Linked DNA regions of Homo sapiens: region 1 is reported to be linked to region 2. Evidence: microRNA targets listed by miRTarBase, many of them from high-throughput screens and not tested one by one. Region 2 holds a microRNA gene; the other region holds the end of a gene's coding sequence.
What was found. Region 2 holds the annotated microRNA hsa-miR-512-5p (CACUCAGCCUUGAGGGCACUUUC, at 1,451-1,473, shown strand). A microRNA usually pairs through its seed, bases 2 to 8, with sites in the 3' UTR of a target mRNA and lowers its output. Matches are read on the target gene's strand: a 7mer-m8 pairs with bases 2 to 8, a 7mer-A1 pairs with bases 2 to 7 and ends in A, and an 8mer does both.

Region 1: the mRNA of ABHD17B is a reported target of hsa-miR-512-5p. Seed matches in the 3' UTR shown: 7mer-A1 at 1,428-1,434.

Annotation. Positions count from the first base shown.
Region 1 is chr9:71,863,771-71,867,182 of GRCh38, reverse strand. ABHD17B (abhydrolase domain containing 17B, depalmitoylase) reads left to right here. Exons shown (of 4, transcript NM_001025780.3): 4 at 177-2,031. The coding sequence ends at 396. Among named protein-coding and RNA genes, the nearest start is that of ABHD17B, 46 kb to the left of the region's middle.
Region 2 is chr19:53,665,242-53,668,653 of GRCh38, forward strand. It overlaps MIR512-1 (microRNA 512-1), which reads left to right and starts at 1,438; the gene lies at 1,438-1,521. All of the region lies in intron 2 of LOC107985342 (a long non-coding RNA gene), which reads left to right. RefSeq lists enhancers at 1-361, 362-1,249, 1,250-2,138, 3,027-3,412.

The DNA of each region.
Region 1 (3,412 bases), not on the chromosome of region 2:
TAGGGAGTATGTAAAAGGCAATTTTTGAATCTTACTGGAAATTCAGGAGACATTCTTACCTTCTGAACTGATTCATACAATTCTCATATTTGAATTATCTGTCTGATATAGCACAAGAATATGTTCCTTTACATAGTTAATTTATTGCATTTTTCCCCCTTCCTTTTTCCCTGCAGCATTGACAAAATCTCTAAGATAACCTCTCCAGTATTAATAATTCATGGGACTGAAGATGAAGTCATTGACTTTTCACATGGCCTCGCATTGTTTGAACGTTGCCAAAGACCTGTGGAGCCTCTCTGGGTTGAAGGAGCAGGTCACAATGATGTGGAACTTTATGGACAGTATCTTGAAAGGTTGAAACAGTTTGTGTCACAGGAACTGGTAAATTTGTAAAATATTCTGTAAATTTGCTACTGGGTTTTCCTTTCTTGCTGAACTGCACTCTTTGGTAAATAACATAAAACCTGAAGGTTTTGTTTGCAAATCATGTCAGTTGCCTTCATAAATGTACAGGTAATGATTTGTTAACAGACTTAATGAAGGTTTTAATTACCAGAACTAAAAACTGGAAATAACAGTACCGTGCAGTCAGGCTGTGTAATTTATATTTTTTCTGTGAATTTTTTTTTAACATCAAGATGAGTACTGTATGAGATTTTAATTCTATAAAATCAAATGCTGTAAAAGTATTGCCAAATGCTTTTGCATACTAGAAACAAATTTATAAATATTTTTAAAACATCTCAATATATTAAATCTTATCCTGGAATACAACTGTAATATTTTGAAAAAAGCTATGTATCTAAAGCAATTTAAGTACTCATAATGGAATGAACTGTAAAAGAGATTTAAAACCATGCAAGTTCACTAGAATTAACCTAAACCCTGTTGTACAGGGATAGAGGTTTAAAGTTATTTTATTGTAAAATACATTGAATTTTCTGTATACTCTGATTACATACATTTATCCTTTAAAAAAGATGTAAATCTTAATTTTTATGCCATCTATTAATTTACCAATGAGTTACCTTGTAAATGAGAAGTCATGATAGCACTGAATTTTAACTAGTTTTGACTTCTAAGTTTGGTACTGTGAGGCAAGTACTTAAAATTTTCATGCTGGTTACTTAAAAGGCATTTAGAGATTTCAAGAATGATTTTGTATACGATGTTTTAAATTTTGACTGATCTCATAGTCTTCATAGAATTGCAGTAGTCTTCATTGTATGAAATCCCGAAAGTCCATGAGTTGATCTTAAAGACCACTAACAGACTGGCTATCAGATCCCTTTTCACTTTGGCTATTTTTTTCATTTTTTGAGATGGAGTCTTGCTGTGTCACTGAGGCTGGAGTGCAGTGGCGCGATCTTGATTCACTGCAACCTCTGCCTCCCGGGATCAAGTGATTCTCCTGCCTCAGCCTCCTGAGTAGCTGGTATTACAGATGCTTGCCACCACGCCTGGCTAATTTTTGTATTTTTAGTAGAGACAGGGTTTTGCCATGTTGATCAGGCTGGTCTTGAACTCCTGACCTCATGATCTGCCCTTGGCCTCCCAAAGTGTCGGAATTACAGGCATGAGCCACTGCGCCTGGCCCACTTTAGCTATTTTTAAAAATAGGACCTATTGTTTTGGATTACTATCTGAGAATTTCATGGATTCACTCCTGGGTATAGGAGATAAGAATACGTTTAATTCATAACTTTTATATTAACCAATATAGTAAAAAAATAAAGCTCACACATACAAAAACTAAGTTGCCTTTCCTTGAATGAACCCTGTCTGAATAAAACAATGAAAAATAAAAATAAAATTAATGGTATGTAGTCTAATTTGTAAATGAATGAATATGGAAATAATACACACTGTGGATATATTTTAAGGCCTTATGTAGTTTTAATTGTTCTGCTCGTTCCGTGGTTATGTTTAAGACTATAGTATATGACTCTCTTCAAAGTATATCAAGTATTGTGAATGCTTTGGTTCAGATGTGTCAAATTAACAGTAAAACAACAAATATACCACTGACCTGTGCTTATTTGCCTTTTTCCATGCTCCCCACCCCCACACTAGAAAGAGTGAAAAAAAATTACCCTTCGTTTTTATAGGACATAGTTTGAAAATTTTTAAAATTATATCATCACTTTTTTGGAGAGGTCTTTCTTTCTCAAGATTGTCTTGTAACCTATACAGTTTCTTCTTTGTACAGCATACAACCCAGGGCTTAGCTAAATGTTTTCTTTGATTACCTGGGGAAATCTAAATATTGATCCTATTCATTCAGTGTTCGTTCATTCAACAGACAGTTACTGAATGTATAAATCATGCAAAAACCTGTGCTAGGTAAAGACAGACTGTGTCCTCATAGATTTCATGGTATAGCTAAGGAGACAGGCACCTCATTGCACAAATATTACTATTTTGATAAGGGCTGAAGGAGATTTGTAAGGTATTGTAACAGGTAAAAGGTACTTTTGGGAGGGGAACATAGGGAGCAGGGCAAGGAAGAGTCCCCCAGAGAAGTGGTATTTCAGCTAAGTTTTGAAGGATAACTAAGAATTGGGTAGACCTGGGTGACCCAGGGGAAGCATTCCTAGCTGAGGGGAATGAATAATATATGGAAGCCTAGAGGAAGGAAGGTGCAGTTAAATATGAAGACTGGGCCAGGGGCGGTGGCTCATGTCTGTAATCCCAGTACTTTGGGAGGCTGAGGCAGGTGGATCACGAGGTCAGGAGATCGAGACCATCCTGGCTAACACGGTGAAACCCTGTCTCTACTAAAAACACAAAAAGTTAGCTGGGCGTGGTGGCACGCGCCTGTAGTCCCAGCTACTTGGGAGGCTGAGGCAGGAGAATCACTTGAACCCGGGAGGTGGAGGTTGCAGTGAGCCGAGATCGCACCACTGCACTCCAGCCTGGGTGACAGAGCGAGACTCTGTCTCAAAAAAAAAAAAAAAAAAAAAAAAGAAAGTTTGGCCTATGCATGAGGCTGCTAATTAGGAACACAATTACAGATGGCATGGTGAACCCTAGTCTTTATCCTAGAAACAAATAGGCCATTGATAGAAAAAGGAAACAGCACTTGTCAAGAGTATAGATGAAAAAATCTGGAGATTTTCGCTTGCTGGAAATAACGTGTAAGTCAGTTGTGTAGAAACTGATCTAATTTTAGAGTGGTGAAAAATACATCATGGGAAAATGATACACAAAGTGCTGTTCAAACCACATTTACATTACTAATGTTATTCCAGGATGCAGTGAAAGGATATTTACAAATTAGAGCAAATCCTGAGGTATTTGCCAAGTTGGAAAAGGTACCGTAAACTGAAACTCCCAAACCAGCTGAAAGATGTGACTAAGGAGTAATAGCTACCTTCAAATATTTGAGAGGCATGTACAATGTATTTTA
Region 2 (3,412 bases):
CTCCCGGATTCAAGCAATTCTCCTGCCTCAGCCTCCCGAGTAGCTGGGATTACAGGCATGCACCACCATGCCCAGTTGATTGTTTTTGTATTTTTAGTAGAGGTGGGGTTTCACCATGTTGGCCAGGTCTCAGACTCCAAGCCTCGAGTCATCCGCCCTCTTCAGCCTCCCAAAGTGCTGGGTTTACAGGTGTGAGCCACCATTCCTGGACCGCATTATTGATTTTTTAAAATTTTTGGATTTTGTTCAATTAGTGATTGAGTCTCACTGTGTTGCCCAGATGGGCTTGTCTCCCAGGCTGGAGTGCAGTGGTGAGATCGTGACTCACAGTAGCCTCAACCTCCCTCACCCCAGCGTCCCGTGTAGTTGGGATGGCAGGCATACAGGACCATGCTTAGCTAATTTTTTTTTTTTTTTGTAGGGTTGGGGTCTCCCACCATTGTCTAGGCTGGTCATCAACACCTGGGCACAAACATCCTCTCACCCCGGCCTCTGAGCCACTGCACCCAGTAGGTTTTAGGTTCATTTTATTTTTTATTTAGGTGTCCACAAAGGCAGCTTTTTCCTTTTCTTTATTTTTTAAAGAGACAGGGTCTCACTCTGTTGCCCAGGGTGGAGTGCAGTGGCCAGATCTTGGCTCTCTGCAACCTCTGCCTTCCAGACTCAAGTGATCCACCTTCGTCTCCAGAGTAGCTGGGACTATAGGTGTGCACAAACACACCCAGCTGAGTTTTAAATCTTTTGTAGAGAAGGGGGCCTCAGTATGTTTCCCAGGCTGGTTTTGAAGTCCTGTGCTCAAGCAATCCTTCTGCCTTGGCTTCCCAAACTGCTAGGATTACAGGTGAGCCACCACACCGGGCCTGTCCACGTAATTTAAAAGGTGCTGGACGTGTGCGGTGGCTCACGTCTGTAATCCCAGCACTTTGGGAGGCTGAGGTGGGCGGATCACGAGGTCAGGAGTTCGAGACCAGCCTGGCCAATATGGTGAAACCCTGTCTCTACTAAAAATACAAAAATTAGCCAGGTGTGGTGGCAGGCGCCTGTAATCCCAGCTTCTCAGGAGGCTGAGGCAGGAGAATTGCTTGAACCCAGGAGGCGGAGGCTGCAGTGAGCTGATGATCGCTCCATGGCACTCCAGCCTGGGCAACAGAGCAAGACTAAGAAAAAAAAAGAAAGAAAAAGAAAAAGAAAACAAAGTAATGTAAAAGGTGTTATTCAGGCTGGGGACCCCCAAAGTGCTGGGATTACAGGCATGAGCCCCAGGGCAGGCCTAGGATTTGCATTACAAGGCTCTGCATTGTTCCTGAGAACTGGAGAGAGTGCTCAATCTACCTTTCGCTATTGAGCAACATTCAGAAGTCAGTTTTAAATCTCTTATCTTCTGCATAGAGGATGTGCCTGCAGTTTCCAGGTACTGGACAATACAGGGAGGGTACTTCTCAGTCTGTGGCACTCAGCCTTGAGGGCACTTTCTGGTGCCAGAATGAAAGTGCTGTCATAGCTGAGGTCCAATGACTGAGGCGAGCACCGAAGAAACACCATGGGGGGGAGGGGGGGCGGGGGGCTCCAGGAGCCACTGCAGGTAAAAGCTAAACCGTGGTGCTTGTTCTGCGCCATAAACTGGACTTCAGCCCAGCTTTAAGGAAATGACCACGGTCTCTGGGTTGTGAGGCTGGGTTCCGTAGCAGCTATAATGCTTGGATTCAGGGATAGCCTGGGTCACACCATTGCCAGAGAAGAGGCAACCAATCCAGACCCCAAAAGCGGGTTCTTGGATCTCTTGCTGGAAAGAATTTCGAGGCAAGTCACAACACAGCGAAAGAAGCAAGCTGAGGCCTGGGCTCAATCCTCCTGCTTCGTCCTCCCAAAGTGCTGGGATTACACGCATGATCCCCTGTGCCCTGCCAATATTTGGTAATTATAACTGGTGGTCAGCTTACAATGTGGCTATTTCCAGACCATAAGTACCAACTCTATAGGTGCCTTGTGAGTGAGTGCCTTGCTACTTCAAGCAGTTACTTTCGTGTGTTATTAAACCAGAGGCCTGCTAAGCCTCTGTGCCTAGTAAAGATTACAATTTGGAATGTCAGCCCCCAGCTGTCCTGTGTGATTGGCAGGTTAGGTCCTTGTTGAACCAGAAGCAACTGGCCAGTCGTACAGATGCAACTTTCGGACCAGTAGAAAATTTCTATGTCAACCTGGAGACATAGGGATTGTACCTTTCTGATACCCTATTAGTAAATAAATAGTATTTATTTATAAATTATGTATAATAGTATTTATCTGAATATATCCCAAGCAGCCCAAGTGTGTTCCAGACATAACATTTTTATTTACATTTAAATATCACTAAGATTAGAGATACACATCTAACTCAGGTTTTCAACTAGTCTTACCATTGAAAGAACTATTGTGGCAGGACGCAGTGGCGCACGCCTATTATCCTAGCACTTTGGGAGGCCGAGGAGGGCGGATCACAAGGCCAGGAGTTCGAGACCAGCCTGGCCAGCATGGTGAAACCCCATCTCTACTAAAAATACAAAAAAATTAGCTGGGCATGATGGCACAGGCTTGCAGTCCCAGCTACTCGGTAGGCTGAGGCAGGAGAACTGCTTGAACCCGGCAGACGGAGGTTGCAGTGAGCCGAGATCGCGCCACCGAACTCCAGTCTGGGCAACAGAGCAAGACGCTTGTCTTAAAAAAGAGAGAGAAAGAACTACTTGTTCTCTGTAAGCCATGCTGGTTTAGCCAAAATGCTGCAGTTGTGTATGGCCAGGGACGTTGAGGCTGCAGTGAGCCGACGGCTGTGTTGCCGCTCTGCAGTCTGGGGGACAGAGCAAGAACCTGTCTCAAAAAAACAAGAAGTTAGTGAGACAGACATGCCGTTCTGTTACTTTTCCCCTTGCTGGTTCAAAGCTAGGTAGTTGCCAATTAAATGTAATCTTGTAGAGCAAAAATGTTTTTCATTTTTTGAGACAGGATCTCACTCTATTGCCCAGCCTGGAGTGCAGTTGTGGGAACTCACAGCAACCTCCACCTCCTGGGTTTAGGCAGTTCTTCTGCATCAGTCTCCCGAGTAGCTGAGACTACACCGGTGCCCAGAGGGCAGTGGCCAGATCTTGGCTCTCTGCAACCTCTGCCTTCCAGATTCAAGTGAGCCACCTCCGCCTCCTGAGTAGCTGGGACTATAAGTACGTACCACCATACCCAGTTAATTTTTGCATTTTTTGTAGATAAGGGGGCTAAGTATGTTTCCCAGGCTGGTTTCGAAGTCCTGTGCTCAAGCAATCCTTCTGCCTTGGCTTCCCAAACTGCTAGGATTACAGGTGAGCCACCACACCGGGCCTGTCCACGTAATTTAAAAGGTGCTGGACGTGTGCGGTGGCTCACGTCTGTAATCCCAGCACTTTGG